Regions from separate parts of the Homo sapiens genome. Here region 2 is linked to region 1. A link means that fine-mapping ties the variant in region 1 to the expression of a gene that starts in the linked region. Tissue or cell type: cerebellum. Region 1 holds a variant in brackets; the other region holds the start of a gene. All regions are shown on one strand. Distances are from middle to middle.

What was found.
Region 2: it holds the start of ALDH1L1-AS2, and the variant in region 1 is fine-mapped to the expression of ALDH1L1-AS2 in cerebellum (GTEx, PIP above 0.99).

What each region holds. Positions count from the first base shown.
Region 1 is chr3:126,203,906-126,219,995 of GRCh38, reverse strand. ALDH1L1-AS2 (ALDH1L1 antisense RNA 2) reads right to left here. Exons shown (of 2, transcript NR_046383.1): 2 at 9,827-11,670. It overlaps LOC124909426 (a long non-coding RNA gene), which reads right to left and starts at 6,964. Exons shown (of 3, transcript XR_007096060.1): 1 at 4,299-6,964. RefSeq lists enhancers at 5,977-6,489, 10,668-11,867. The variant T/A (reference allele first, on the strand shown) is at 8,810.
Region 2 is chr3:126,174,334-126,190,423 of GRCh38, reverse strand. ALDH1L1-AS2 (ALDH1L1 antisense RNA 2) reads right to left here and starts at 10,359. Exons shown (of 2, transcript NR_046383.1): 1 at 9,880-10,359. ALDH1L1 (aldehyde dehydrogenase 1 family member L1) reads left to right here and starts at 9,838. Exons shown (of 23, transcript NM_012190.4): 1 at 9,838-9,948. RefSeq lists enhancers at 5,524-5,818, 8,669-9,422, 9,423-10,178.

The DNA of each region.
Region 1 (16,090 bases):
GAATTTGTTAAGAGTTATTTTGTGACCTTATATGTTGCCTTTCCTGGAAAATGTTCCCTGAACACTTGAGAAGATTGTGTACTCTGCTGTTGTTGGGTGGAATCTTCTCTGTATGTCCGTTAGGTCCAATTGGTGTAAAATGTTTCAGTCTTCTATCTCATTATTGATCTTCTGCTTAGTTATTCTATCCATTATTGAATGTGAGGTATGGAAGTCTCCTACTATTATTGTGTTTCTGTCTATCTCCCTTCAGTTCTGTTAGTTTGCTTTATATGTTTAGGAGCTCTCTGGTTTGGTACCTAAATATTTTTTGTTATTATGTATTTTTGGTAAATTGACCCTTTTACCATTATACAATATCTTTTTTTGTCTCCTGTAACAGTTTTTGATTTAAAGTCTCTTTTGCCAGATATTGGTGTAGCAATTCCTGTTGTCTTTTGATTACCATTTGTATGAAATCTTTTTTCTATCCTTTCATTTTTAGGCTATTATATTTTCAGATCTAAAGTGAGTTTCTTGTAGACAGCATATAATTGTATCCTGTTTTTGAATACATTTAGCAAATCTATTTTTTTTTTTGAGACAGGGTCTTGATCAACTGTTGCCCAGGATGGAGTGCAGTGGTGAGACTGTGGCTCACTGCAGCCTGAATCTCCCAGGCTCAAGCAATCCTCACACCTAGCCTCCCCAGTAGCTGTGACTACAAGTGTGCACCACCACACCTGGCTAATTTTTAAAAATTTTTATAGTAATGGCAGTCTCACTATGTTACCAGGGCTGGTCTCAAACTCCTGGGCTAAAGCAATGTTCCTGCCTTGACCTCCCTACATGCTGATGTTACAGGTATGATATGCTGCGCCCAACCCAATCTGTATATTTTGTTTGTGGAGTTTAATTTGTTTACATTTAAAGTAATTATTTATAGGGAAGGACTTGATATTTTAGTTGTTTTATGGATCTTGTAACTTTTTTGTCCCTTCTTTCATCTCTTAGTGACTTCCTTTGTGTTTTATTGGTTTTCCACAGAAGACATAAAATTGAAAAGGTTTTACAACCAATTTAACACAGACTCCAGCCAATAATAATAGACCCTGGTTGTTCACCATCATACTATTGTACTGGTGTGCTCTTTTAAAAAAATGTCTAAATGTTGCATTAATTTGCATTTCTTTGATTACTTCTAAGATTGAGTATTGTTTTATTTCCTTCCTTCTTTCTCTCCTTTCTTCCTATTTCTGAGAATTGCTTTTTCATATTCTATGCTCATTTGGTGTTGATTGTCCATTTATTAATTTGAAATATTTTTTGTAAATTAACAATATTTACTTTGTCATATTTTGCAAATATTTTTCCTAGTTTGAAATTATCTTTTAGTTTTGTTTATGGCACATGAAAGATATATGCAAATTTATCATTATATATATTTAACATATGTAAGTTTTATAACATCATATAATCAAATCTATTCCTCTTTTCTTTATGGTTTCTGCCTCTAGTATTGTGTCATCTAGTGCTAGAATTACTTGTCAGGAGTCACATTTTCTTTTAAAACTATACTTCCAAGCATTACTTGCACTTTATTCTGTTCATAACAGTTTCAATGTTCAATCCATTGAATGTTCTATATCTTATGATAGTCCTTGAAATGAGCTGTTTTTTTTTAATTAGCTTTTGATTGATCAAGACATGTGTTCAAGTAAAATTTTCCTTTAGGTTTTATTGTCTATTTTTGAACCATTGTATTTCTGACAGTGTCTTTCTGTTGCTTTCTCATTTGAATAAAACCTGAATAAGAGCTCTTGATTTATAGACTTTTTCAGCAATGTTTTCTGTAGGTATTTCTCTATTGGCTTTTAAAGTTGCAAAAAGTGTTAGGGGTTTTTAAAATTTATTTGAAATTTTTTTCTTTTTTGGATAATTTGTATCCTTTATTGTCCACCCAACCCCTGCAGAAGGGAATTTTTTTTGAAAAAAGAATATGTGTGCCTTACCTGGATGCTTATACTTCATTTAATCTTGAAATAAAAATAATTGCGCATAGTAGTGTGTAAATATAAGTGCTCTGAATTTTAATTCAGGTATTTTTATAGCTCAGGAAAGTTTTCTGTTATAACTGTATTATTGTGTATACTGCGTGTGTTTTCTTCAGAACATTAATTACCCATATGTTAGATCTGCCATTTTCTTCCTCCATATCTACTATCTTTTTTCTCATGTTTTAAAATTCTTTGTCCCTATTTAATTGTTTACTTATTTTGCTTCTGGAAAAGTTTCTTAAATGACCAATGTTTAAGTTTTCCATTTATTTTTGTTTTGCTGTATAGATTTTTTTTTTTTTACTGATACATTGCATATTTTATTTCTGGTATTGCACTTTTAATTTCCTCGCCATTTTGCCTATAACTTCTTTATTTTCTTTCTTTATTTTCTTTCTTAGTTCTTTTCTTAGAAAATTAGCCAGCTATTTTTCAGGCTCATTGGAATCTGGTTCTATACCACGTTGCCTTCCCTTCTTATTTCTTGCTTTAAAGAGCCTACGTATGGTTGAGATTTATGGTTACCACAAAGCAGTTGCTCTCTAAAATTTCCCCCCTTCTTGGTAAATAAAGCAATGTTGAAAAACATACCTCCCTGCCTTTTTAATACCATGAACACTTACATCTTATAAACTGTAAAATATTTTTATAGGTCCCCTTTTTACTGGTGTTTACAACCTTGAACAAGGCAAGATCTATTCAGGCTAGACATTTGCCCGAAGCAGGCTATAGACACTCTCTTGATTCCTAGCATTGTCTCTCTGGTTGCTGTTAGTATTTATGCTGGCTGATGTAAAATATCATGCCCAATGAAATTATTAAATAAAACTGTGGGACCAGGAAGGGAAAATTAACACTTTGTGGTTGCATCATTTTTCACTATCTTGTTGGTGTCAGGATGAGGAATCTGGGAAGCAGGGTCTGTCCGTTGTCTGTTCAGCCTTCAGGTTGGAAAGAATAACACCATAACCTGTGTCTCCCTTTGTCATGATGAGCCAAAAGGATCTATAAAAAAACACCTCACCTCTATGTGCTAGCACCTCCAGGAAGTTTGTGGTGTCCAATAAGCAAGGGTCTAGGGAAGCAGTCTCTGCTTGGCTCCTGCTGCTGAGTGGTGAAAATTGGAGTACATTTAAGGCTACCTTGCTACTTGGCTTTATTCCGACAACTGAGCTCCCATCTCTCTCCAGATAATCCCAACCCCAAGGGCTTACATCTAATCTTTGGAGCTATTTCTGTTCTTCATTTTTATTTCCTTATCAGTCTCCTTTTAATGTTATGCCTGCATTGCTCACTCTTTCATGCCTACAGAAGTGATTCACAGTACAAGAATCTGAAGATCTTTCAAATTATTCAGTGATGGATCACCTAAAATTTTAAAGTATTTGCCTGTTTGCTGAAGATTCCTTCCAGCAATTTAAAACTTTGCTCATTCCCAATGGCTTCTTGGTCACTTCAGCCTACAAAATCTGACATTTGTAATAGATGCCATCAGGTGGTGTGGTTTGTGAGATGGCTCTGCCTTACCCCAGAAGGATGCAGCTTCAGGGGCTCTACCACTATGCTCACTTTTCTAGAAAATGAAAAGAAACACCTCTATTTGGAAACCTTGAGACCATTTTTGAGGTTTGGGGATAAAAGTGATTTGCCAGTGTGTCGTAGGTGGCCAGCAATGGGACCGGGGTTAGAACCCAAGCAGTCTTCCTGGCCCCAAGCTCTCATTTCCCCACTGCACTGTCCCCAGTCGTGCACTTCAACATGGGGCTGGGTTCAAAATTATTGCACCATCTTGCCACCTCTTGTTTTCTGGTAATCCCAAATGCTAGGGGATTCCAGTGCCAAGAGCCAAGAGTTCAAAGTAGTAAAGGAAGCATCCCAAGAAAAGGACTTTGTAGTCCCGACTGTACCAGCGTAGGTCACCCAGCACTGGCAGTGGGCAAACACCTACACGGAATGTTGTCACTGAGAAAAACGGCACGCAGAGCTAGCTGAAACTGAGAGTGCAGGAGGCCAGTGCTTCCCCTCTGCTGTAATGTCGATCCAGGGGCCACCACAATGGGTTCCACCGAATGTAGACATAGGACACTTGGGCGGTCTGATACTAAGTGTGCTGCTACCTGGCCAAGGCCAAGAACAAGCGCAGGGCACCAAAAGGACAATTATTCCTCTGTCGAGCTCCTACACATCCATTTTAGTCAGGATAGGGCATGTTATGCTGTGGTAATTAACCACTCTGAAACAGCATTGGCTTAATACACTTACGGTGTATACTCCCTCATCCAGAGTCCACTGCAGGTCCAGGCGACTCTCCATGCAAGGATTCAGCTGTCAGCTCTTGATCTTGGGACTTCAGAGGGACTGCCACAGTGGAAAGGTAGGACTGGAGGACCTGGCTCTGGCAACTAAAAGCTTCAGCCTGGAATTGACATCCGTCATTTCCCCTCACATTCCATTGGCCAGAACTGGTCCCATAGTCTCAGCTGCCAAGCGGGGAGGTACTGGCTGTTGTCAGTACTAGAAGTTTCTACCACAGCTCTGAAACCTGACCATTTTGAGAAGAAAGGTGAAGGGTAAAGTTTGGCATACTTTTCTTTTCTTTTTCCTGAAAGATAATGTAAGTACACAAGTCTTAAGTGCACAGGTTGATGAATTTTCACAGAGTATGCACTCCAAGCAGGACGCAGCTAAAGATATGCAGCACTCACAGCTCCCCACGCAGTATCCCGGTGCCCAAGCAACTACCTCCAAAATTCTCTCCTGACCTCTAACACTGTAGATCAGTCTTGCCTGGATTTTGTATTTTATATAATGGAATCCTTAGTTATGCACTCTATTGTAGCTTTGCATTCAATACTTTGAGATTTATCCATGTTGCTGCAAGTATTAGCAGTTTGTTATTTTTTTGTTGCTGTGCAGTATACCATTGCATTCTTAAAATACTACCATTTAATTAATCTTTCTAAAGACATTAAAGACATTTGTTGGGGGATTAAAATAAATAAGTAAATTTGCTGTAGGCGATCTTGACCATGATCAGGAACCTAGCACTCGGTTCCCTTGGATATACACGCTGGTTCCTATGGCAGGCGTTTGCTTACCTCCATTAGATGTTTCCACGTGGTTGCTCCAATCCACTCTCCCATCAGCAGGGTATGAGAGCCCAGCTGGTTGTTCCACAGTCTCATCAGCACTTGGCGTTGCTATTTTAGCCATCCAGTGGCTGTGATATGGAATCGAATGTCACTATTTGCAGTTCCCTGATGCTAAGTACCCTTTCGTGTGTGGATTGACTGTCTGGATCTCTCCTTTTGTGAAATATCTTTTCAAGTCTTTTGTCAATTTTTAACTGAGCTATCTATATTTTTCTTGTTGTAGGGGTCTTCATATTTTCTGGTCCTGAGTCGTTTACTGAACAAAAGGCAACTTTTTTGTGAGTCATCTTTTTACTCTTAATGGTGTCTTTTGAAGTTCATTTTAATAAAGTTCAATGTTTTCCTATTTCTTTTCCGTTTAGTATTTGACAGTATTTTGATATTGTTATCAAAATATACACAGCCAGTCCCCTCGTGCGTTATCCTCTGCTCCAGGGGGCTCTCAAGGGGATGAGATGCAGAGAAGGGGAGAAAACTGGAACCCCAAGTTCCCTGATTAATAAATAGGGACCAGCGCGAATCCTTACCACAGCAGGGGGCGAGGCATTGGAAGCCTGGGAAGGGAGACTAGACTCCCCTGCCCAGAGGCCCGGGCAGTAAGCAGGGAATGGAAGCAGAGGCGTGGGTCATGGGTGCTGCCCCACTGAAGCCCATGGTCCTGCCCCCTACAGTCAAGGGCTGACCAAGTCTCACCCTCAAGTCAAGCAAGTAGGCCACTCCCATTGCAGGGGGATCCAGGAAGGTCCCTGAAGAGTCCTCTGCTGTCCTTCCCTTCTGGTGACCACACCTGCGTCCACAAGAGGAGTGGCTGCCCCTGAGAGGGGACAGCAGCGCCCAGTGTCCCTCCTCGCCTCCGCGCGGCTGCTGTCCCTGTCCTTCCCTTCTGTGCCTGGCTGGAATCACGAACATGGAAGGCCCGTCTGCCTTTTCCGCTTCAGACTGCAACAGGGCTTTGCTCCAAAGTGCTGGGAAACGGCAGTTCCACTACTAGACAGGTCTGCACCCCAGAGAAATGTGTGTGCGCGTGCACCAAAAACACACGAGAACGCTCACAGCAACCTTATCCCTTCTAGCCCCAGACGAGTGCCCATCAACAGCAGAAGGGGTAGATAAAGCGGGGCTCACCCTCGCAGTGACCTGAACACGGCAGCGAGAGCACACTGCGTGGATGACACACAGCGCCGCGTGGAAGACGCTAAGCTCCGGGAGCCCGCGGTGTGATCCCCTCGCCCCAAAGCGGCGCAAGGGCCCCAGGCGCCAGGCCCTGCGGGGCCCGGGCAGCGCGCGACGCGCTGTCTCTCCACCTGGGGACGGCTGTCCGGCGAAGCCAGTAAAGCTCAGTAAGCTGTAGCTCAGGGGGCACGTCAGGACGCGCACTCCACGCCAAAAAGTTAAAAGAGGTCTGCGCCAGGGAGGCGCGCGGGCGGGAGACCTCGACTCTCAAAGCGCCTCCTCCAGGCTCTCCGCCGCGTCCTCTGGGGCTGGGGCGGAATCCTCGCATCCCCGCCGGGTCTCCCTCCAGGCCGCCGGGCTCCGAGCGGAAGGGCCGCTTCCATGGAGACGGCTTTTTTGAGCTCGGACAAAGCACTCTGGCTGCGGCGAAGGGCCGCGGCCGCCGGGCGGCGCCTTCCGAGGGCGCAGGGCGGACGCGGAGGCCCGAGAAGGCGCGGGGAGGGTGGGGAGGGTGGGGAGGCGAGAGGCCGGGCCTCCGCGTTCCCGTTCGCTGCGGGACAAAGCTCCCTGTCCTGTCCCTTCCTGGGGGCGCCCCTGCCGTGAGAAGCAGAGCCGGCGGTGGGGCCCAGCCCCTCCCAAGGGCGACTCCCCCACCCTCCACAGGCCGGGGCCTGAAGCCGTCACAGCGGGGTTCGCTGCTTCCCATTCAGGCTGTGATGGCCCGAGGCTCGGCGTGGTCTCGCTCTCTTCTCAATTAATCCATTTTAGGGGGACAGGCAATACATTTACATGGTTCAAACACAAAAATGATGGAAAAGTTAGCTTTGAAATACTTGCTTTCCCCCAGCCCTATCGACCCTGTTCTTCGGTGCCCCCTAAAGGCACCTTCTGCTCTTTATCTATCACAGGCTTATGCCAAATGCCAGCAAAAGAATGCAGCAGGGCCACTCCGCTTCTTTGTCACAGCAACCGGAGCCTAGGCTGCCCTTGTTGTGTACCCCTCCCCGCCTCCCTCCTTCCTTCCCTTCCTCCCGCCTTCTTGCTTTCCCTCCCTCCTCTCCTCCTTCCCTCCTTCCTTCCTTCTTCCTTCTCTCCCTCTTTCTTTCCTCCCTTCCTCATTCCTTCCTCCCTTCCTTCCCTCTTTCCTTCCTTCCTTCCTCCCTTCCTTCGTTCCTTCCTTCCCTCTCTCCTCCTCCCTCCCTCCTTCTTTCCTCCCTTCCTCCTTCCTTCTTTACTTCCTTCTTCCTTCCCTCCTTCCATCTTCCCTTCCTCCTTCCCTTCCACCCTTCCTCCTTCCTTCCCTCCTTCCATCTTCCCTTCCTCCTTCCCTTCCTCCCTCCCTTCCTCCCTTCCTTTCTTCTTCCTTCCTCCCTCCTTCTTCTCTCCTTCCTTCTTTCTTCCTTCCCTTCTCCCTCCTTTCCTTCCCTCCTTTCCTTCCTTCCTTCCTTCCGTCCTTCCTTCCTTCTTCACTCCCTCCCTTCCTCCCTTCCCCCTCTCCTTCCTTCCTCAGTCCCAGAGCCCTTTCCATAGGCCTGCACAGAGCTTTTTCATTCTTTCTGACATCCGCCTCAAGTGCTCCAAGGTGTACCCATGATCTTTTCAACGGACACCCTGTGGATAGGAACTTGGGCTGTGTGCTTGCCATTTTGTGCTCATACAGGTGTATCTATAGGGTCAATCTCCCCTGTTTTTGACATCCTGACCTACCGCCCGCTGACCCTCCAGCCCCACCATGGCAGTGTATCCAGTGTCAACTACCTGGAGACTTGCCAGGGCTATAAGTCTTGTGGCCCTGACTTCCTGGCTCAGCAGCCGTGAGTCTCTGCCTGCAGGGGACTCCTGCTGAGAGAGGACTTGACTGACCAGATCTGCCTCCTGGGCAGGCCCCTTAGATGGGACCTTGTGTGAGCCTTTGGTTTCCAAGGACCAAACCATGGAAGGCTCAGAGTGACTAAGAGGTTCAAAGACTCTTAGGCAGTGAGGCCCACAGGAGGTAGGAGCCCCCAGCGGTGTGATGTGGGAGCCGGGTCAGATGCAGAGGCGGAGGACGGGTGTGGATAGGGGCAGGCTGGAGGGGCTTAGCAGGGGGACCCCACACACTGGGCTGCCAGCCTGCAGCCTCCAGGGCCAAGTGTGAGGCCTGTGGGTGTGGGGGTCCTGTGTGTAAGGCCTTTGACTTCACCTGTGTGAGAAATGAATATCTCAGCCAGTGGGTGAGCTCTGTGTCCCACCCAAGCATGAAGCCCACTTTCTAATCTTCATGTGAACTTCATGATCCATGATGGAAGCTGATCATGATGGAAGCTGCCTGTGACACCTTATTCCTATCAGTATCCAATCAGTATCTGTCAAGCACTGTGGGAGGCTGTGCAGTTATTCCCAAGTTGTTCCCTGGAGACGGAGCTTCCCGGCCCTCGTGACTCAGTCTCTGCCACGGGCAATGAGCAG[T/A]GTGGCAGATGTGGCAGCTCCAGGCGCCATCGGTGGCTGCACTGTCGCTCTTTCTCCCTTGGCAGCAGCCTGGCACGTCTGGTAGGGGCTGCTGCATCAGCCTTGATTCTGGAATGAAGCTGACATGGATCAAGACCCAGCCATGCTGAGAGAGGCATAAATATGCGAGAGAAATAAACCTTTGTTATTTGAAGTCCCTAGGACGTGGGGTCGTTTGTTCTTTGGTATGACAGCTTAAGCTGGCCCATACAAGCTCTTACTCCGGCCAGGCATAGGACATAGAGCAGGGAATGGGACAGACGTGGTCTCTGCCCCTGTGGAAACATGAGGACCTGGGGAATGGCCACTCCCCCTGGCAGAGAAGCCTGGAGAAAGCAGGATTAGGGCAAAGGTCTGGAGTTCTGTCTTCAGTGTGCTAAGCTGAGGCGTCAACAAGATAGCCAAAGAGAATTGCCAAGTGTATGGTCAGGTGCACACATCTGCAGCTCAGGAGAGAGGCTTGGTGTGTAAATCTGGGCATCAATGGAACATGGATTGCCAGCGAGGAGCTAGGCACTGTGGGAAAGGAGGTAGCTCACACCCCTCAACCCCCACCACACCACGGTTTGGCCATTGGTTTGTTCCTGAAAAACATGAACCTTTTGGAAATCCACAAAAGTCTCCTAAGGGAAGAAGAAATGGGTGGGAGGAGACTTGCCATCGCATGTAGAATGTGGATTCAGGCTGCTTGTTTTTTAAATTATGAAATAGAAACCCCTGATAATTGAAGGACTTGGGGATATTAGAGTTGGAGGTATTTGAGTTCATATCCCAACCCCCTTAAAGTAGTGTTTCCAAAATTGGGTGTGCATATCACTGGTAGTACACAAGTTGATTTTAGGGGACATATGAAATCTGTTATTTTATAGTTGTGCTATTTTGTTTAGTTACCCTTTGTTTACGGCATGTGATACTGGTTTTCCATCTTCAGTGATGATATGTGCAAGTTACAGAAAGATATTTAAACAAAGGCAATAATTTGATTTAAAGGAAACTTTTAATAATCGCACATATATTGTATAAATATGCCATGAAAACTAAGTGACTCAAGTTTGAGAAACACTTCTTTAAAGGTAAATTCTGATGCCTGCATGCAACAGATGACAAGGGGGGTACGGTGTAGTTTAGTGGCCTGGCCAAGGGCCCTGGCTACTCCATGGTGCTACTGGGATACACAGCCAAACCCGGGAAGATGGTCCATGTCCTCCGAGGCCAGCTGGAAGGGCTTGTCCAGTGAGGCAGCTACAGGGCTGGGCCTGGAGCCCAGGGCTTCCCAGTGGATGCTACTGCTCAGCCCTCCTGGCCCACATCTCTTAACTCACTTGGAGGGGGTCCCTCCTGGAGGCAGGATGCCCCTTCACACCCTTATCCTCCCTTCTCATTTTCCAACGTGGCCAGCAAGTGCTTTGATCTCTCTTGGAAATGTCTCTGGCCTCCTGACTTTAGGAATGAAAAATGTCCACACCGTGGCCTGGTGGGGGTGGGGTATGAGTGTTAAAAATCAGTCTTCCAAGTGGAAAAATATTTGATGGGAATTTTGACAAACAGTTGGGGAAGGATTAGGATAAGAATGAAGTGATTTATGGAAATGAAACTATGGCCGAAAAATTCAAATTTTTTTTGTCAGCATTCCAAATGACAAAATTATTTCATCACTAGACCTCGCCAAGGCTTTCTGAAAGTTGAATACCCATTGGTCTTCCAGGGTCCAGCTCATGCCCTGCACCAAGAGTAGGGATGGGCGAGGAGGGTGTGACCCAGCAGAGAAAGTTTCAGTTTGTGAGCAAACACCTGTCATGTCCAGGAGGCCTGGAGACCTTGTGGCTCTTGTCACATGATGAAGGGGTTGAAGAAATTCATCTACACACTGTGGAACCCGGACTCAGCCCTGGACCACAACTTTCCCTCTGTCATTCATTGGCTGTGACACTGAGAGATCAATTTCCCCTCTGAGCCTCAGTTTTTCCATTTGCAGAATTGGGGAAGGAACCCCCTCCCTCTTGGGTTTGTTGTGCGAAGGCAATGAGGTGTTTCCCATGTGCAGCTGTGAACACCATGAGAACACATGCCACTCCCCATCTTCCCAAGAGCCTTGACGCCTTCTGCATGGGCATGTCTTCCACCGCAAGCAATAGAAACTGTGTCTGGTTGACTGGAGCAAGAATTGGAGAGGATGTGGGTAGCTCTCAGAATCAAAGAAAAAGTGCAAAATCAACCCATAAGAGCCAGCGTGCAGACAGTCCCCTCTTAGGAACTGAGGGACACTCCTCAGGGAGCCATGGCAGCAGCACAGCAGGTCAGCTGTTTCCGTCTTGGCATGGCTCCACTATGACTCAGCGTCCTGGGGGAACCAGAGTCTGATTGGCTTGGCCCGTGTCCCAGCTCCTCGCCCAGGAAATGCCTCAATTGATTGTTACACCAGGACTGCATGCAACATAGACTTGTGCCCTAGAGCCAAATCAGTGAGTGCCATCAGAAGGACCGGGCATGGGGAATGAAAATAAACCACCACCGCCAACAAAAAAACGGGGGAACCAACCATAAATTCCTTCCGCTGAATGTTGGAGCCCATCTTTTCATTTGCATGATCCACCCTCTCCATTCTGTGTCTTCCAGTTGCAGCTACTCTTCAAGGATCACTAAGGACCATTCCACCTACTGAACAGTGATCACAGCATCAGTGTGTTAACTTCTGCTGTGAGCACCAATCTTCACATTCTCCAAAGTGCTGTGTGATTGCAGTTCCTATCATATCCACTCTTGTTGGCTTTTCACACGTACTGATGAGCTGTCAAGGCAGGAGATCCCCCATTTCCAGGGCCCTACAGAGGTTCAGATGAGAGAAGAGACAGGAAGTGAGTGACCTAAGCTCATAAGGCTTGTACGTGATGGAGCTAGGGCTTTACTTACTAATTTTAGGAATTTTTCTGTTTATTCTCTTGAGACTTCTGCAGATCAAAATCATTGTATCTGAAAATAGTAATGTTTTATGTCTTCTCTCTTAATAATTATGTATTCTATTTTGTTTTTATTTTATTGCACTACTAAAAAATTTTACAATAAAAAAGTGACAGCTGATACCTCTATTTATTTCCTGGACTTGATGAGCGTGTTTCTCAGGTTCTGCTGTAAAGCACAATGTGTAAAGTATGTAAAATGGTAATACTTGGCATACAGTAAGTGCTACATAGGTGTTAATATTTGCATCACTCTGTAGTTCTGAACTCATCTGCCTAACAAGCACAGCCTGCCCCCACTATCCCTCCTGTGCCCCAGACATGGGTATAGCTGAAGAGGGCCTTGGTTTGGTTTGATTCCATCATGTATGCACTCAGTGGAGACTCAGTAAGTGTTTATTAACTTAAAATGCATGCCCGAATGAACGAATCAGTCCATTGAGTTCTAGCGGCCCTTACCTGGGACACGCTGGCCTCATGGCCAAGGAAAAGAGCTTGCGGAACCAGGTGATGATTTTTAAAGCTTGGTATGGATAGTCTCCAAAGACAGTCACCATCAATTTCTTTCCTCCCTGTATGTGCTGGATGATTCTTACACCAAGTACTGGAATCTTGCCTTTGTCTTACTAACAAAGTCTGGACTAACCTTAGTGACTTGCTTAACCAATGGATTGTGATGGAAGTAACATTCTAGGACTTCTGAGGCTGGGCTTGTAAGATGCCTGGATCTCTTGATAATGTTCCCTCCTGGAATTTAGCTGTCAGGCTGTGAGAATCCCAAGCCATGTGGAGATGCCATATGTGAGTGCTCCAGTGAAGAGCCCCCACTGAGGCTCCAGGTGACAGTCAGAATCCACTGCTCACTGTGCGACTCGGCCATTTTGGACATCCGGCCCAGCTGAGCCTTCAGGTGGTGTGCAGCCGCAGCCAGAAACTGACTACCACACATAAGAAACCTAAGAAAGAACTACCGCACCCAGTCCACAGGGCCATTACATCATAATGAACCATTATTTTAAGCCACTCTGTGTTGGGATGGTGTTTTTGTTTTGTTTTGTTTTTTTGTTTTATTTTGTTTTTTGTGAGACAGAGTCTTGCTTACAGGCTGGAGTGCAGTGGCGCGATCTTGGCTCACTGCAAGCTCCACTTCCTGGGTTCACGCCTTCTCCTGCCTCAGCCTCCCGAGTAGCTGGGACTACAGGCGCCTGCCACCATGCCTGGCTAATTTTTTTTTGCATTTTTAGTAGAGACGGGGTTTCACCGTGTTAGCCAGGATGGTCTCGATCTACTGACCTCGTGATCTGCCCACCTCGGCCTCCCAAAGTGCTGGGATTACAGTGGGATGGTTTTAAAAGCAGTAACAGATACCCAGAGAGCTTCTGCTTAGAAGGCACACATCACTTCCCTGCTCAGAATCCAGCACTGAACTCCCAATTTATTGGTCAAGAAGTGATGTCCACAGGGCAGAAAAATATGGGCATTCCTCAAAGACGTAGCAAGTATTTAGGGATAATAGTAAGAGAATAAAGTGGCTGGATATAAAATAAACACAGTGATAAGTTGCATTTATATATACTTGCAACAACCCTTTACAAAATAAAGTGAACAAAGATCTCTTTTACAATCACAATAAAAATAAAATATCTAGAAACAACATTAGTGCCTTGGATACATCTAGTTCCTAGTACAATCCCCCAGGGAGGCTGTGAGAAGTTTTGTAATGAGCTTGTTAACAGAGATTGTATATTGGGAAATTTCCAGCAAATTTGCAAATTGGCATACTACTTCTGCCAAATGACTAAAAATGTTCTGTTGAACTGCTAAAACTTTCCTGTGTATGTGCTGAGGTTGTGATAAAATGGCAAAGTAGGATGGCTGGTCTGATTGGACTCCAATTGAAACATTCTCTCAAGTATGTGCTAAAGCAAAAAGCATGAAGTCAGCTGCAAGTGAACAAGTTGTCAGGCTTGTGCCTCAGCTTCCATGAAAGGAGCTGGCAGAGGCAGCCCTGCTGACCTCTGAGCTTTGCACGACCTGGGTGTCCAGCATAGATCTGGGTATGACCTCCAGGAGGAGGCAGGCAGCCTTCAGGGCTGCAAGCTTCTGTTAGAAGCTTAGCAAGCGTCTCTGACCATCACTTCCTCTGGAAATGTATTCTTTAATAAACCATTGCATTCATGAGTGAAATTGAATAAACATCCCAGGATTCTCAATCTTTGGGAAAAAGCTCATTCTAAAGTCACAAATTGTCTCACTAGAGAAAAATGCCACTGTATGCAGTACACACAAATGATTACATACTGCTTCTAATGGTTACTGACTCTGTGACCCTTGTCCCCAAGCCCCAAGTTGAGAAAAGCTTGTATTTTAGAGGTTTGAATGACAAGGGGAGGGAAAGGATAGGGAGATGAGACAATCCCTCCCCAAGATGAACCCTTCCCGCAGGTGTGTCCATCTCCTAGGTGCAGCCACCTCCCAGGTGTACCTTTCTCCCAGGTATACCCTTTCCCCAGGTATACCCACTCCCCAGGTGTACCTTTCCCCTAGGTACACCCTTTCCCTAGGTGTACCTTTTCTAGGTGCACCTTTTCCACAGGTACTCCCTTCCCCCAGGTGCACCCACATCCCAGGAACACCCTTTCTCCAAGTGTACCCACTCCCTAGGTACACCCTCTCCCCAGGTGCACCCACTCCTCAGGTATACCCTTCCACCAGGTGCACCCTCTCCCCAGGTGTACCCTTCCCCCAAGTGCACCATTTCCCCAAGTATACCCACTCCTTAGGTGCACCCTTCCCCCAGGTGCACCCTCTTCCTAGAGGCACCCACTCCCCAGGTGCACCCCCTCCCCAGGTGTACTCTTCCCCCAGCTGTGCCCTCTCCACAGATGTACCGTCTCCCCAAGTGCACCTACTCCCCAGGTGAACCTTCTCCCAGGTGTACCAACTTGCCATGTGTACCCTTCCCCCAGGTGCTCCCTCTCCCCAGTTGCACCCTTTCCTGAGGTACACTCACTCCCCAGGTACACCATTCCCCCAGTTGTACTTTTCATCCAGGTGTGCCCTTCCCACCAGATGCTCCTCCCCCTGGTGTGCCCTTCCCCTGGGTGTACTTGACTCACTTTCCTTCAGTAGGTTTCCGCTCAGTTATCACTCTATCATGAAGCTTCCCTCACCACTCTGTTTAAAATGCAACCTCCCTCAACTCTCCCTCTCCTCTCCCCTACTTTATTTTTCTCCATTTCATATAGCTGATAATTCCCATCTTTATTATGCTTATTGTCTGTTCCCAGTCAGGTAAGTCCTATGTGGTGTTTTTTTGAAATTTTGTTCTTTGCTATATCTCAGTGTCTGGGACAGTGTCCAACATATCCTAGGTGCTCAGTACACATTTATCAAGAGAATGAATGGATTGGACACATCCATCTCCCTTCCCTGACTCTGAACTTCTGGAGCACAGGGACCCTGCCTTTTTCATCCAGGCCAATACATAGCAAGTGCTTGTTTAAATGTTGGTTGAACTCAGTGGCCCACCCATTACAACATAAAGACACCAATACTTTCAGGAAGCTTCAGCGAAAAACCCTTATAGAAAAAACTCTCCCAGGTGTATGCCCTCTGCACCAATTGCAAAGCTCTCGACCTCATTAAAAAGCATTTCATTAGAAGGTGACTGATATGGTTTGGATTTGTGTCCCCGCCCAAATCTCACCTCAAATTGTAATCCCCAATGTTGGAGGAAAGGCCTGGTGCGGGGTGATTGGATCGTGTGGCCAGATCCCCACTGTTGCTCTTGGTATAGTGAGTTCTCATATCTGGTTGTTTAAAAGTGTGTGTCACCTCCCGCCTCTCTCTCCTCTTCTTCCTTCTCTGGCCATGTAAGATGTGCCTGCTTTCCCTTTGCCTTCCACCATGATTGAAAGTTTCCTGAGGCCCTCCCAGCTATGCTTCCTGTGGAACCATGAGCCAATTAAAACTTCTTTTCTTATAAGTTACCCAGTCTCAGGTAGTTCTTTATACAATGCGAGAACAGACTAATACAGTGACCTCATTGGGATTTATGCAATCTTATCAGAAATGAAATTTCACAAGTCCACAGTATCAGTGCCATGGGGAACCTAAGAATCCCGGAAGTCAAGGGCAGCTCTTTGCCTGTCCTGAGCCCTCAGCACAGGGAATCAGTGCTGTAATTGAACTCACTGGAGTAACCCTATAAATGGAGAGATGGCCGCGTGTGAGTCTAAGCAGAACTGGACTTGGCAGGGAGGACCCAGGCAGCCCAGGGACA
Region 2 (16,090 bases), 30 kb after region 1:
GTTGTTAAGGGCTCTGCACTCCATAGCTCATTACGGTGATCCAAATTACGAAAAATATTGGTGGGGTGATTGTTCTAAAATTGCTAAAAGAGTTGATAGCCAATGTTTGATTTGTCAAACCCATAATCCTGGGAAGACAATGAAAGCTTCAGGTGGTGTATTTATTTCTACCACATGATGAACCATTTGAATATTTGCAGATGAACTTCATTCAACTTCCACCCTTGATGGGATATCAGCATGTTATTGTAATAGTTTGCATGTTCTCTGGTCAGATAGAAGCTTTCCCATGTAAGAAAGCTGATGCTAGGATAGTTGCTAATATGTTATTAGAAATGTGTTTCCTTTCTGGGGCGCCCCTGGAGAAGAATCTCCTGCAACAGAGGAATCTATGTTACTGGACAAACTCTAAAGCAGTTAAACAAGGTATTGCAAACACAATGACACTATCATTGTCCCCATCACCCTCAATCTTCTAGAAAAGTTGAAAGAACAAATGGCATTTTAAGAAACTGAAATTGACAACTGAATCAATTGGATTGCCTTGGCCAAAGGCACTACCATTGGCTTTGCGGGGAATCAGATTCACTCCCAGTGGAAAACATAGACTGAACCTTTATGTAGTAGTTATTGGAGGCCTGTGCCCTTAAAAATAGAACTCATGTATCTCCCACTCTCCTCAATTCTGATATAACTAAATAATGTAAGGCTTTCATGTATTATGCCAAAGTATATTCTCACCAGATAAAAGAAACTTTCCATGATCCATGAGCTGAGAACAATCAAGTCCCTCACAGTTTAGAACCTGAAGACAAGGTCTTCTGGAAAAGACATCAAAGAAAGATTGCCCTGGAACCCTGTGGGTAGGCACCACAGCAAGTTCTTCTCACTACCCACACTGCAGCCAAGCTTTGGGGCCTTGAACCTTGGCTGGGTTCACAACTCACAGCTCAAACGGCCTCTCAAGTTTCCTGGAAGTGCACACCTGTTGTAGACTTTAAGGTAAAGCTGGCCATGGGGAAATTTTCCTGGAAGCAGATGACATGTTAGATATGAACAGTTTTCCCAATACGTGGGAACTAAACTCTTCTCTTAATGAGACGCTTTCCCTGTTGAGTTTTCCTCGTTTATGCCTACTTTTTTACTTGGAAGGATACTTCTGTAGTTAGAAATTCACCATAAATACAAAATGTTGAATTTTTTTTCTGCTAATCCAGAACTTTACATGATCTAAGGGATCCATTAGTTCACTTAGTGATTAACTTTAGGAACATACCTAATGCAATTGCCTATTTAAATTGTATTTGTGGTCCCTTTTATAGAGCTGGACTTCTGGCCCACAAAACTCCTGCTTTGATTTGGCCCAGTCATGGGATGCGAGATGGCTTATCAGCTGAGCAAGGAGGAGTCGGTGCTGATGCTTTTTGTTGCATATGAATAAATACGTCGGGTACTGTACAGACTCAGTCACAAAAAAACAACAAACAGGCTATTTGGTTAAAATGGGTGCACTCTTCATTTGGTGTATTGTTTGATCTATTCGACTGTAGTTGATTTGTTTCATGGGGACCCTGGGTAAGGGGCATACTTTAAACTCTTGGTATCATGCTCCCAATAGTCATAATAGTAGTCTTCCTGGTGCATTGTATTCTTTCAAAAATTTTTAAATGTTTGCATGCAGCTATCTGTTAAACATTAAATGGTATCTATTTATTGGAATGACAAAAATCCTCAAAAGTATGATCATGAGGACTATGAATAAATGACACGTTGAGACTGAATATCTAAAATGACGGTAAGTGGGAGGAGCGCTGATGCCCTAAGTTTTATTCACATTCTTACTTAGGTGAGATCCTGACCAAAAGGAAGGGGTTGTTAAATTAAATTTGCAGGAGGCTACTGATTTGGAGAAAGCTCCTTTACTGGGCCCAACAGACCAAGCCAATATGGAGTAATTCCTGCTAAATGTAACTAACTTAGGAGCACAGTGGTCTCTCGGTATCTGCAAGGCATTGGTTCCAGGACCACCTGCGGATACCAAAACCCGTGCATACTGAAGTCCCACAATTGCCTCTGTGAAACCCATGAATACGAAAAGTTGGCCCTTTGCATACACAGGTTTCACATTCCACAAATGCTGTATTTTTGATTTGTATTTGGTTGTAGATGCAGAAACTGCCAATATGGAGGGCCAACTGTATTTATTTTAAAAATCCTGCAAACATGGACCCGCACAGGTCCAACCTGCGTTGTCCAAGGATCAAATGTATACTCATGTCACAAATATCTGACTTTCAGTTAGTAACAGGCAGCCGGCTGCTTCAAGTGAGATACAATGCTGAGCTGCAACCAATTAAGTTGTTCTTTTTGCCTCACTTCCACTTTCTGTCCATAAATGCAGCCTGACCGTGTAGCAGCCAGGAGCTCTTTGAACCTGTTCTGGTTCTGAGGGCTGCCCAACTCACAAATCTTTTTTTTTCTTCTCAAATAAACTCTGACAAGTTTAAACTTGCTTAAGGTTTTTTTCTTTTTGACAGAGCCGTTGTCACCCGAACCTCTCGTTCAGACTCCTCACCTCCACCTTCTGTTCTGGGTCTGCTCTTTTAGTCTCCGGTTCAACTGCTCCAGCACGACCCTCTCATTGGTCTTAAAGGGCCCTTGATAGTTTCCCTCAATTCACCAGCATTTTCCTCGTCCAGCTCAGAATCTGCAGTCCAAGACTGCCCTTTGATTTTCACTGAAACCATCTGGGTCAGTCTTGGGTAAACTCAGAGATGGGTTTCCTTTTCCTCCGTGCCTGCTTCTTGAGTAGTCTGATGCTTCTGGGGTCTCAAACGCGCAGTTTCGCCCCACTGTAAACTGAGGTGTGCCTTCAATACGGCCCAGGGTCCTTCCACCGCTCTCCCATTCCCCAATCCCACAAGGACTGCTCGAGCTTCCCTCTCCTGCATCCCACCTCGGGAGATGACCTTACTCCACTCTTTAGAGAGAGAAGGAAAGCCACAAGGGGGGATCTTGTACCAACATGAACCATGGGTAAAGAAACCCCACCGTCCATCTAGCTACCCACCCATCCATCCTCCCACCCTCCCTTCCTTCCTTCTGGTTATGATGCTGTTCAAGCCACCTCGGAATCTGCTTTTGGACATCTTCCCTTCCCCCCGTTTTTAGGAACCACAGACACTACTGATTCTCCCCTTTCTTTCTTGTACATTCAACTTTTCCTTCTCAGCTGAGTCTTTCTCAATAGCTTTTTACACTCTTAAGTCTCTCTCATTACAGCCTTTCCCCGTTCCCACCATGACCTTCTCTTGTTACCTTCCCCTTCCCAGCCAAACACTTCGCAGTGTGTGCTCCAGGAATGGCAGCAGCCTCTCCTCGATCCCCGCTCCCCCTGAGCAGCCCTGGGTGCCTGTTCCTGGATGGTTCCAACTTCAGAGCTCCACAGTGACTTTGCCCTCCCAGCGTCCGTGCAGTTTCAGGTGGTGGCGGCTGGTGCTACTGCTGATCTCCAGCTGCCTCACCACTTCTTTTTGCCCTGCAGCATTTCCAGCACTTTTGCAGCTACTTCACATGGAGCTCCCTCCACTGAGCAACATGAGGTGGGCTCTCCACTGACTGGACAGTGCCACTCATCTGCGGATCCCTCTGGTCCACTCCCCACCCTTCACGGGGCCTGGTGCTTGGAGTCTGACCTGGGAGGGCTGCAGCCCCAGGCCTCTCTACCTCTGACTTGCAGAGACTTAGCCATTGGAGGGTCCTGGAAGGACATGAGGTGAGGGAGGGAGCTGGGTCTTCCCTGCTCCCTGTTATGATCACAGTTGCCGCATCTCCCAAGCAGTCCCTACACGCTGCACTCCTCTGGGTTCCATGAAGTTCTCCACACCCCAAGCCCTCAGGCTCAGGGTCAGGGTCAGGGTCAGGGTCAGGTTCAGGGTCAGGGTCAGGGCCCTGCTGTCCCTGGCCCTGGGCCATGGCACCATCCTGTGCTCCCCAACCAGTGCCACGTTCTGCTCACTTGTCTTGCACATGCCTGCGCTGAATCCTGGGTGGGTGATTTCCTCACACTTAGTGGCCAGCCCAGGCCCAGGGCCATCAGGGACAGAGCTTCCAAGAAGGCCCAGTTGCTCCTTTCAGCTTTCTGATGCTACATGAGCTTTTCCAATGCAATTATGGTGATGGCTGATGGAAACTGATTTTTTAAAGTTATTATTTTTAATTGTGGTAAAATAAACATAACCCAAAATTTACCATTTTAACTATTCTTTAGTGCACAGTGCTATGTTTTTAAGAGCATTCACACTGTCGTGCAACCATCACTGCCATCCATCTCCAGAACTTTTTCAACTGAAACTCTGTCCCCATTAAACATGAACTCCCCATTCTCCCCTCCCCATGGCCCCTGGCACCCCCCATTCCACTTTCTGTCTCTATGAACATGAGTACTTTAGGGACCTCATAGAAACAGAACCATTTGTCCTATTGTGGCTGGGTTAACTCAGTTAGAATAAACTACTCAAGATTCCTCCATGTTGTAATGTGTGTCAGAATTTTCTTCCTTTTTAAGTCTGAATAATACTCCAGAATATTGACTTTTTAAAGATGTTTTTACTTTGCAAAATAAGAAAATGAGAATCTAATATCAGTTACTGGAATGCTGTTGAAATTGCCCTGGCCTATGAAATCAGAACATCTTGTTACCACTGGACAACAGAGTGAAACCCACAGTCTGCACCCCATGTTGTGGCCTCGTGACCCCTGACTTTGCCAGCTTCTCTCCTGCAGCTGCAATGCTTTCTCCTGATTCCTCAAAAACAACCCACATCCCCACCTCCATGCACCAATGCATCATTCTTACATTCTCTCCAACTGGAACGTTTCTTATTTTTTGCTGGTTAAAGTCATCACAGTCTTACTGGGCCTTATCTCCCAGGTGAAGCCTGAAGTACCCAGACCCGCTTTCTTCATGTCTCACCTCTGTGATGGTTCACATCCCCTCCCACCTTTCATATCTGCCACCTGTGCATTCATCTCCCCCATAGAGGTGCGAGCACCTGGAGTAGAGACACCGTCCCTGCCTCCTCTTTGCTCATTTATTCCTTTACAGTGAGTTTCTGGGGGCCATGTGCCAGCCAGGTGCTGGCACCAGCCAGTTTGCATGGGGGTGCAAACACGCAACACCCCCAGGTTAGATTTGGCATGGGGCTGGAGAGGACCTGGCAGGAGCAGGGCTGTAAGCTCTGTGGCCCAGAAGCATTCCATCTATGTCTGCAGGTCATCAGGTGGGCTCTGGTGTGTGGCACAGAGCTCTGTTAAGTCTCATCCCTACCTTCGCCTCTACATGAAAAATTGCATGCAGGCCCTTTAAAGGGGGAAATATGGAGAAAACCATTTTGAATTCTTGGTTCCCACTGGGGAGAGGTTCTAAGGGGTGGGGATCAGGTGACATCATGAGTAACTCACGAGGCAGGGTAGAAGCATCTGAACGAGGCATCCTAGGAGATAAAGAGAAACACTGGCTCCAAAATTAAAACAAAACAAAACAAAACAAAAACAAGCCCAGGTCACTTGGCCTCCCCGCTTTGATTTCCCACAGGCTATGACCTTCAAGTTAATGTTTCCTTTGCAGCGTACACACAGTCCCAGTTACTGATTCCCCAAAAACAAGCTGAATCATCATTATACAACAGAAAGAGAACCCATGTCTATCCCATCCCCCATTCACAGAGCCCTGAGCCAGGCTTGTCTCCTAATCTGCCTCTGGATTGGAGCAGTAGCCCCCATTGTTCTACCCAGACTTGGGCTGTGTAAGTGCACACTGCTTTCCCTGGGAGGACTTAGCCACCAGGGCCCTGCGGAAAGCCCGGGCAGAGGCTCTCTCTGCAGGGCTTATCCAGCCACTGTCACTGCAGGTGCCTCTCCTGGATCAGGGCCTGTGCAGGGCTGTGGGATACACAGATGAAACAGGCCCTGTCCCTGCCCTCAGAGGTGTTGCAGTTGATAAAGAGACAGACACACATATAAATAGTTGCATTAGAGTGTGGTCTGTGCTGTGAGTGAGGGAATTCCCAAGGAGAAGGTTGGGGTCAGGCTTCCCAAAGGAGATGATGCACAAGCCCATCCCTGGGGCACAGGCAGGGCTCAGCTGGTGGCTTCAAGAAGCAGGGCATTCCCGGCACAGTGAACTGAACTGGCAAAAGAGGGTTTCAGTGGGACTCGTTCAGAGAGTATCATATAGTCCTGGGACAGGGACAAGCTGGCTTCTGCCACTGTCTGACCTCAAGCCTCAGCTTCTCTCTCTGGTCTATGAAAGGATGGATTCGGAAATCACACAGTTACTTCCACCATCTTTCATGTGTTAAAAGGAAGTCACTACGTTCAGCCTACATTCAAAGGCAGGGGAATTAAGTGCCACTCCTTGAATGGAAGAGCATCAGAGAGTTTTAAAATGACCACAGTCCACCTACTGGCCACAAACTACTTACATCCTTCCACATGCAAAATACATTCGCCCTCCAAACATCCCCTCAAAGCCTCATCCCACTGTAGAATCAGCTCAATATCCAGAATCTCTGCATCTAAATCAGGCTTTGATGTGGGTGAAGCACCTGGGGTATTATTCCCTCAAGTGTAGCTCCTTGAGTAGAGTTGCTCTCAATCTACAGACTTAGGAATTCCAGAGACAAATTAACTGCGCCTCCCCCCTGCACCCACCTGACATAAACTGGTGGGATAGGCATTGGATAACCACTGTAGACGTGCCTGCTCCAAAGGGAACAAGGACAGGAGGCATGCAGGAGTAACTAGTGTACGGCAATTCTAAAATCTTCCTGGGCGGGTCCTGAAAGTCTCTTGAATAGGACTCAGTCTGACTCTGGCCCCAGAGTGATTCTCCACGCTCTTGGCTCCACCCTTTGGGTTCTTTGTTCTATTCCCCAAGTCATCCCTTCTTTTCCATGAAATGCAGCCCAGGTTCATATCCGTATAGTTTCTCAGCTTGCTTCCTCCCAGAATTTGGGGGAGTCTAGAGGTCTCTTTTCATTTTATATTGTCTCTGACCCTTTCAGTCCAAGTCTACACTGTTTTGCTCATATAATTCTTTTAAAAATGTTGCATGTCTCCTGTAGATCTCACTGAGGTTCATGCCTTTAGACAACTGTCAAACCCACACATCTCTTTGAGAAAAGCCCTTCTCTCTCTTGGGCTTCTGCTGAGACTGCTGTCAAGGACAACTGTAAGCTTCTTAGAAATCCTACTATTTAACAAAATATTCTGAGGTGTCCCTTTGTTCTCTTTGAAGATTTTACAAAAGATCTCATGACCACACTCTTGGCTTCATCTTTAGGCCATCTTCCTTGCACTGGCCTGCATTTGCTCTTTGCCTGGAAGCCATTTGTTAGTTTTAGCATCATATGACATCTGGAGAAGCTGGACATTTTCACAGCCCAAGTTATGGTTCCTTTTTATTTAACAATCCTTCCTTTGGCTTATGTCCCTTCTCTCACATTTTAGTATAAGCAGCAAGAAGAAGCCAGGAGGAGGCACCTTCAACAATCTCCTTAATGAGATCCCCCAGTTCATCTGGTACATTTTCTACTTTCCACATGATTTCGGAACACTTTCTGCTTAAAATTCCCTCCTCTCCTGCTCCATACCTCTAAGAGTATGGATTCCTCTCTGATTTCCTAATACATCTTTTTGGGGTGTCTAACCTCCAAGCCATTGTTCAGTGGTTCCTGTCGCCCATCTGCCTTCTCAATTTTAACTCCCAAGTTCAGAACACACCACTTTCCCATTGCAGGCCCCTAACACTCAGCCAGTTTTCCTACAGATTATATGGCACACCTTCCACACACAGGGCATGCATTCAGCCCTGGGGACTTCCCAGGAGAATAAGCTAGTCTTCGCCATCATTGTCCAGAGACATGTTAATCAAGCAATCCCAGAAGCAGTGATAAAATTGCAGTTGAAGGCAGGGTGCAGTGGCTCATGCCTGTAATCTCAGCACTTTGGGAGGCTGAGGTAGGTGGATCATCTGACGTCAGGAGTTTGAGACCAGCCTGGCCAACATGGTGAAACCCCGGTGAAACGTCTACTAAAAATACAAAAATTAGCTGGGTGTGGTGGCGCATGCCTGTAATCCCAGCTACTCAGGAGGCTAAGGCAGGAGAATCGCTTGAACCTAGGAGGTGGAGGGTCCATTGAGCTGAGATTGCACCATTGGACTCTAGCCTGGGTGACAGAGTGAGACTCTACCTCAAAAAAAAATAAATAAATAAAGTTGAGAGAGGTTCATGAAGAAAAATTACAGGCCTCTCTGTGATCACATAATGGAGGAATCTGTCCTAGTAAGGCTGAGGCTAGGGAAAGCTTCCCTGAAGTCATGGCATTTTAGTAGGAACTTCCTGAAGAATGATGGGGGTTCTCTGGACAAAGATGAACGGCACATGGAAACTTTATGAGTCGAGAAGTTCCACAGATATGAGGGACAGCAGGGAGACCTGCAGGCTGGAGCCTAAAGAACAAGGGGACAGTGCCTGAAAGTAGGCTAAGTGGATCAGCAGGCACAGGCCACCTCAATCCTGGGTGCCCATACTGGCTTATGTGAGCAAAATACATGCATTAAGCCATTCAACAAACATTTATTTAGCAACTGCTACAAGCCATCACTGTGTATTGGGGATACAACAGTGAATACATCTCACAAATTTCCTGTCCTCAAAGAGCTTACAGTCTAGTGGGAGAGACAGACAATGAACAAACAAAGAAACAAGGAAATATCAGATATACAGTTAAGTGCTGTGAAGGAAATAGAACAGGGTGATGTGGCAGGGAGTGGCTGAGGGACTTCCTTAGTTTGTGTGACCTGGAACAGCCTCTCTAAGGCTCTGCATCAGATATCTGATATGTGATACCATATGGGAGCAGGCTCTGAAAGAACACTACAAGTAGAGAGGTAAAGGCAGGGGCTGCAGCAAGCCTGATGTGTTCAGGCACTGAGCAGAGAGAGGGCCAGGTGGTCGGGACTTAGCGAGAGGGTCGCCTCAAAAGAAGTGAGGCTTAGCAGGGCACGGAGCAGTGCGGCCGCAGGTGTGGTGGGAAGGGTGTTCCAGGAGAAGGAGCCACCTGGACACAGGCTTGCAGTCATGAAACAATACGCAATTATCACTCCCGGCATTCTACATGGCCTTGCCTGAGACCGGGCTGGCCAGGATCTCTGGGAACCAGGAGGAGGGGTCTGCGGCACCAGGACTGAGTAGAAGGGAGAGAGTGGAGAAGGGGAATTGCAGAGAGAAAACCAGGGGCTGTTTTTCTCTCGGAGAGGCGGGTAGGCACTGGGCGGGCAGAAGCGCCGCTATCCACCCGGATGCGCAGCTGCTAAGGGGCCGCCTCTGCAAGCGGCTGCAAATTCCCGGAGGGCAGCGTCTCCTTTCGCTCTGCTGTGTCCGTAGCACATGGCAGGTACTTGGCCCATCAAGAGTGAGAGAGGGTGAGCGAGTGAGTGAGTCACCGGCTTGGCGAGGGTCTCCTCTGACCCACTTAGCCTTGCCAGCGCTCAGAACTGCCAGCCCTGCTGGGTGCTTGGGACTTTTCAAAGCCCTGGGAATTCTCCAAGGGTCCACAGTAAGTCTTCTTGACCTAAGCGGGAAAGAGCGCAGGCCCCTGCGGGGTTGGCTTTTACATGGCATTTATAGACCCGCCCGGAGAGGGTGCGCTGCGCTCCCGCCATAGTCCCACCACCGGTGAGCGCCGCCCCCACTCGGCTGACTCTCCGCCCGCCCCGCGCCCCTCCCCTCACGGGCTCTGGCCTTAACCAGAGCTCGCGGACTGGCGGGGACAGGTCCCACCTCCTGGCTCCCAGGACGGGTCTGCACCAACCTCAGTTTCGGGGCTGCGGCTCACAGAAGTCTAACCTGCCCGGGACGCCCGCACCAACTCCTGCGCGCGGTGAGTTTCTGGGCTCTCGAGAGCGCTGGACTCCCGGCGGAAAGGAGGCTGCCCCGGCTGCAGCTCCGGGGGCTCCGGGGGCTCCAGGGGCTCCAGGACTCGGTTCTCACCGCAAGGGCTCCTGCGGGGCCCATCAACTTCGCCGCTGGGACGCCGGGCTCGGGGTACGGGTCCGGAGTTCTTTGGAGCAATTGAGGCTGAACCTGGCCAGGGGTCATCAGGCTAAATGACCGCAGCGCCAGGACTGGCCCGCCGAGGATCTGGCCGGCCGCGGTGGTAGGGCCCTTACGGAGCTGGCGCCAACCTGTGGGGTGGGCACTGCTGGCCCGGCTTATGGAAGAGAAAACTGAGGCTCGATAAGAGAAAGGGACCAGCGAAGGCGACGCGATGATTTGTGACTGGGGACTACCTGTTTCCTGGGCCCCTCGACCCCATTCTGTGACAGGGAAAGGTCTTCCCTGATTGGCCAAATCTGGGGGCCTGGCACGAGGGCCTCTTGTGATTGGAGGGGTCGACGTGAGCGCTCAGGGGCTGCGCTGGAGTCCCAGCTCCAGCCACTGCGCTCAAGTGGACGGTCGCGCGTGCAGAGGGAGGCCGGATAGCAGACCCCACAACGTGGCTCCTGGGGCCCCGCTATCGAGAGCTCAGGCCCCGCGGGCACTTGCCTAGGAGAGGAAAGAATCTTCCCAAAGTGCAGACAGAGACGGAATTTAATCAGGAGTCCCAGACTTGGAGTTTGGAGGCATGGGCTCTGGTGTCAGGTGACTTTGTTTCCTCCCCACGCCTCCACTTCTCCTTGACCTTGGGCAAGTTTCTTGTGTTCTGAATCTTAGTTTCTTGTCTCTAAAATCGGGAGGGGCAATGAACAGTAGTGCCTGCCTCCCAAGATTGCTTGAGAATTACATGAGACTGCCCCGCGCCTGGCCCTAGGAAACCCTCGGAGAATGTTGGCTGCTGTTTGTTTGTTTGTTTGTTTGAGACAGAGTCTCGCTCTGTCGCCCAGGCTGGAGTGCAGTGGCACGATCTCGGCTCACTGCAACCTCCGCCTCCCGGGTTCAAGTGATTCTCCCGCCTCAGCCTCCCGAGTGCTAGAACTGCATTCATGGGCCCCAGGGCCCTAGCACCAGAACAGAGGGCCCAGAGCTGCAGTCCTGCAGGGTGGCCCAGCCTCACAGGGACTAGAAGCTGGGTCCTGGAGAGCCAAGCCTGGGCTGGGAATTGGGTAGGAGGGTTGGGAGGCCCAGGAAGCCTCCCAGTGTCCCCACACCACCAAGTGAAAGGACACTGAGCGGCCATGACTGGGGGAGGAGGTGGAGGCCTGGAGGCGGCCCATACGGCCCACAAGGGGCTCTATGGGCTTCACTGCAGGCCCCTGCTCTTTCTGGGGCCAAAGGGCAAGCCTGATTGAGGCCCCTCCCAAGGCTCCCGTGCCTGCCATTCTGGCTTTCCCTGGACTGTGACAACAGCCCCTTGGTGGCCACCTGGACTCTGCCTCCCTGCAGGGGGGGAACGACATACTCTTTTATTTTTTTTTTTCAGAAGTAATCATGTACAATATAAAAAAAGAACATTCAGTTAAGAAAACAAAATAATTACAGTCGTCAAAAACCTCTGAAACCCAAAACCCTTTACCCAGTAACTTTCAACATTTCAGTGTAAATTCTTCTAGGCTTTTACCCTGCAGATAAACACACGCATGCACACACAGACACACACACACACACACACAAACTTAAGCCTTACACAATTATCGTGGTTTGTTACTTGTTGGGTGTTTTGACAGTGTCAGGTTTGTATAACTCAATATTTACCAATATTTTCTAATAATTTAATGTTTTCTTCTTATATTTGATTTTCAAGTATTTATTTTTAACCCAATTGGACTGTATTTTAGAGTAAGATGTGAACTATAGAGCTAGATTCATTTATTTATTTCAATTAGTAGACATTTTTAGAGCAGTTTTAGGTTTACAGAAGAATTGAGGACGGAGTGCAGAGTTCCCATATTCTCAGTCTGTCCCTTCCTGCGCGCTTTCTCCTATTTTTCTTTCTATTCTTTTCCTTTCTTTTTTTTTTTTTCTTTTTTTTTTTTTTTGAGACAGGGTCTCACTTTGTTGCCCAGGCTGGAGTGCAGTGGCACAAACACAGCTTACTGCAGCTTTGAACTCCTGGGCTCAAGTGATTCTCATGCCTCAGCCTCCCAAGTAGCTGGGACTACAGGCATGCACAACCACGCCTGGCTAATTTAAAAATTTTTTTGTAGAGATGGGTCTCACTTTGTTGCCCAAGCTGGCCTTGAACTCAAGGGCTCAAGTGATCCTCTGCCTTGGCCTCCCAAAGTGCTGGGATTACAGGCATGAACCACTAGGCCTGGCCTCCCCTATTTTTAACATCATGCATTGATAGGATATTTTTGTTACAGCTTTTTTCTTTTTGAAACAGTCTTGCTCTGTTGCCTAGGCTGGAGTGCAGTGGCACAATCTCAGCTCACTACAGTTTCTGCCTCCCAGGTTCAAGCAATTCTTGGGCCTCAGCCTCTCGAGTAGCTGGGATTACAGGTGCACCACCATGCCCAGCTAATTATTGTATTTTTATAATAGTAGAGACAGGGTTTTACCATGTTAGCCAGGCTGCTTTTGAACTCCTGGCCTCAAGTGATCAGCCCGCCTTGGCCTCCCAAAGTGCTGGGATTACAGGTGTGAGCCACCAGGCCTGGCCAATTTTGTTATACTTGGTGAGCCAATATCGATGCAATGTTATTAATGAAAGTCCATAATTTACATTAGAATTCCCTCTTGGTGTTGTACCTTCTATGGTTTTGGACAAACATATAATGATGAGTATCCAGTGTTACAGTATCATAGAGAATAGTTTCACTGCCCTAAAACTCTCCTGTGCTCTACCCATCCACCCCCCAACCCCCCTACCTATCCCTGGCAACCACTGGTTACTGCCTTTGTAGTTTTGCCTTTTCCAGAATGTCATATAGTATGTATGAATCATATGGTATATAGCCTTTCCAGACTGGCTTCTTTCGCTTAGCAAAATGCATTTAAGCATCCTCCATGTCTTTCTGTGACTTGGTAACCCATTTCTTTTTATCATTGACTAATATTCTGTTGTATGGATGTGGAGGTACCACAGTTTATTTCTCCATTCACATACTACAGGATATCTTGGTTGCTTCCAAGTTTTAGCAGTGAATAAAGCTGCTATCAACATTTGTGTGCAGGTTTTTGTGTGGACATTAGTTTTCTTCTCCTTTGAGTAAATATCAAGAGCGATTGATGGATCACATGGTAAAAGTATGTTTCGTGTTATAAAAAACTACCAAACCTTTTTCCATAGTGGTGGCATAATTTTTCATTTCTACCAGTAATAAATAAGAGTTCCTGTTGCTCCACAGCCTCATCAGCATTTGTTGTCAGTGCTCTTAATTTAACTCTTCTAATACGCATATAGTAGTATCTCATTGTTATATTTTAATTTGCAATCTGTAATGACTTACAGTGTTGAGCATCTTTTTAAATGCTTCTCTGCCATCTGTATATCTTCTTTTGTGAATGTCGGTTAATTTACTTGGCCCATTTTAAAATTGGGTTGTTTGTTTTACTGTTGAGTTTTAATAGTTCTTTGTATATTTTGGATAACAGTGCTTTACCAGATATGTCTTCTCTCCCCAACCATGGCTTGTCTTTTCATTCTCTTAACAGTGTCTTTTGCAGAGCAGAAGTTTTAAATTTTAATAAGGTCTAATGTACCATTTTTTTTCCTCCATGAATTGTGCTGTTGTTGTTGTATCTAAAAAGTCAAATCCAAGTTTTGGCAGTTACAAATAAAGATGCTGTAAACATCAGTGTACAGATATTTGTGTGATTTTTGTGCAATGCAGATTTTCTCCATTGTCTTGCCTTTGTCTCTTTGTCAAAGTTCAGTTGACTGTATTGATGTGAGTTTACTTCTGGGCTCTCTATTCTGTTCAATTGATCTATCTGACTATTCTTTTGCCAATACCGTACTGTCTTGATTACTGTAGCTTTATAGTAAAGTCTTGGGGACAGGCAGTATCGGTCCTCTAACTTCGTTCTCCTTCAATATTGTGTTGACTATCCCAGGTCTTTTGTCTCTCCAAATAAACTTGAGAATCAGTTTGTTGATATCCACAAATAACTGCTGGGGTTTTGATTGGGATTGCATTGAATCTATAGATAAAGTCGGAAAGAACTGACATCTGGACAGTATAGAGTTTCCCTACCCATGAACATGTACTATCTCTTCATTTATTTATACATATTTTTATGTTTTCATCAGTTATGGTTATTCTCACATAGATTTTGACCTATTTTAGGTTTATGTATAAATAATTCACTTTTTGGTGCTAATGTAAATGGTTTTGTGTTTTTAATCTCAAATTTCAATTGTTTATTGCTAGTATATAAGAAAGTAATCAATTTTTGTATATTAACCATGACTTTACATCCAGCAACTTTGGCAGAATAACTTATTATTTCCAGTTTTCTGTTGCTTTGTTGGCATTTTCCACATAGCCAATTATGTTTTTTGAGAACAAGAACAGTTTATTTCTTCCTTCCCAATCTGTAGACTTTTCATTTTCTTTTCTTTTCTAATTACATTAGCCAGCACTTCCAGTATAATGTTGACTAGGAAGGGTGAAAGGGAACATCCTTGCCTTATTTCTGATCTTAGGGGAAAAGCTTCTAGTTTCTCTCCATTAAGTATGATGTTAGCTGTAGGTTTTTCATAGATCTTCTTTATCAAGTTAAGTTCCCATTTATTACTAGCTTGCTGAAAGCTCTTATCATAAATGAATGTTAGATTCTTGTCAAATGCATTTTCTGGATCTATTGATGTGATCATATAATTCTTCCTTAGCCTATTCATGCGATGGATTACATTAATTGATTTTCAAATGTTTAACCTAGAATAAATCCCATGTGGTGGTTATGTATAATTCTTTTTAAACATTGTTGGATTCAATTGCTGATTTTTTTGAGGATTTTAACATCTATGTTTATGAGAAATATTGATCTGTTAGTTTCCTTTCTTGTAATGTTTCTGGTTTTGGTACCAGGGTAATTCTGACCCAAGAAAATTAGAGAATTTCCTCTACTTCTATTTTTTGAAAGAGATCATAGAGAATTGGCATAATTTCTTTCTTAAATGTTTAGTCATATTCATTAACCCTAGTGCTTTCTATTTTGGAAGGCTACTGGCTCCAGTTCTTTAATCAGTATAGGCCTATTCAGATTATCTATTTCTCTTTGTGTGAGTTTTGGAACGTTGTACTTTCAAGGGATTGTTTCATTTCATTTAACTTACCAAATTTGTTGATATAGAGTTGTTCATACTAGTATTTTATTATCCTTTTAATGACCGTAGGATCAGTATTGATGGCCCTTCTTTCATTTTTGATATTAGTAATTTGAGTCTTCTCTCTTTTTCTTCTTAGTTAACCTGGCTAGAGGTGTCTCAGTTTTATTCATCTTTTCAAGGAACCAGCTTTAGGTTTTGTTGATTTTCTCTATTGACAGCATGTTTTCAATTTCACAAGTTCTGCTGTAATTTTTATTATTTCCTTTCTTCTGTTTATTTTGGATTTAATTTGCTCTTCTTTTTCTAGTTTCCTAATTTGGAAACTTGCTTTTAGCTCTTTCTTCTTTAATAATATATGCATTCAGTGCTCTAAATTTCCCTCTAAACACTACTTTAGCAGCATCCCATAAATTTTGATGTTATATTTTCATTTTAATTTAGTTTGAAATATTTTAAATTTTTTCTTGAGAGTTATTCTTTGATTTGTTTACATGTTGTTTAGAAGTGTGTCATTTAGTTTCCATTTTTTTAATGTTTTTCAGATATCTTTCTGTTATTGATTTCTAGTGATTCTGTTGTGATCTCAGTAATCTCCATCATAGAAGTCATTGATATTTGTTGTTGTATGTTTTATGGCACAGAATGTGGTCTGTCTTGATGAATATTCCATGTGAACTTGAGAAGAATGTGTATTCTGTTGTTGTTGGGTGAAGTATTCTCTAAATGCCAATTAGATACACTTAATTGATGGTGCTGTTCAACTATGTCCTTACTGATTTCCAGCCTGCTGGATCTATCAGTTAGTGGG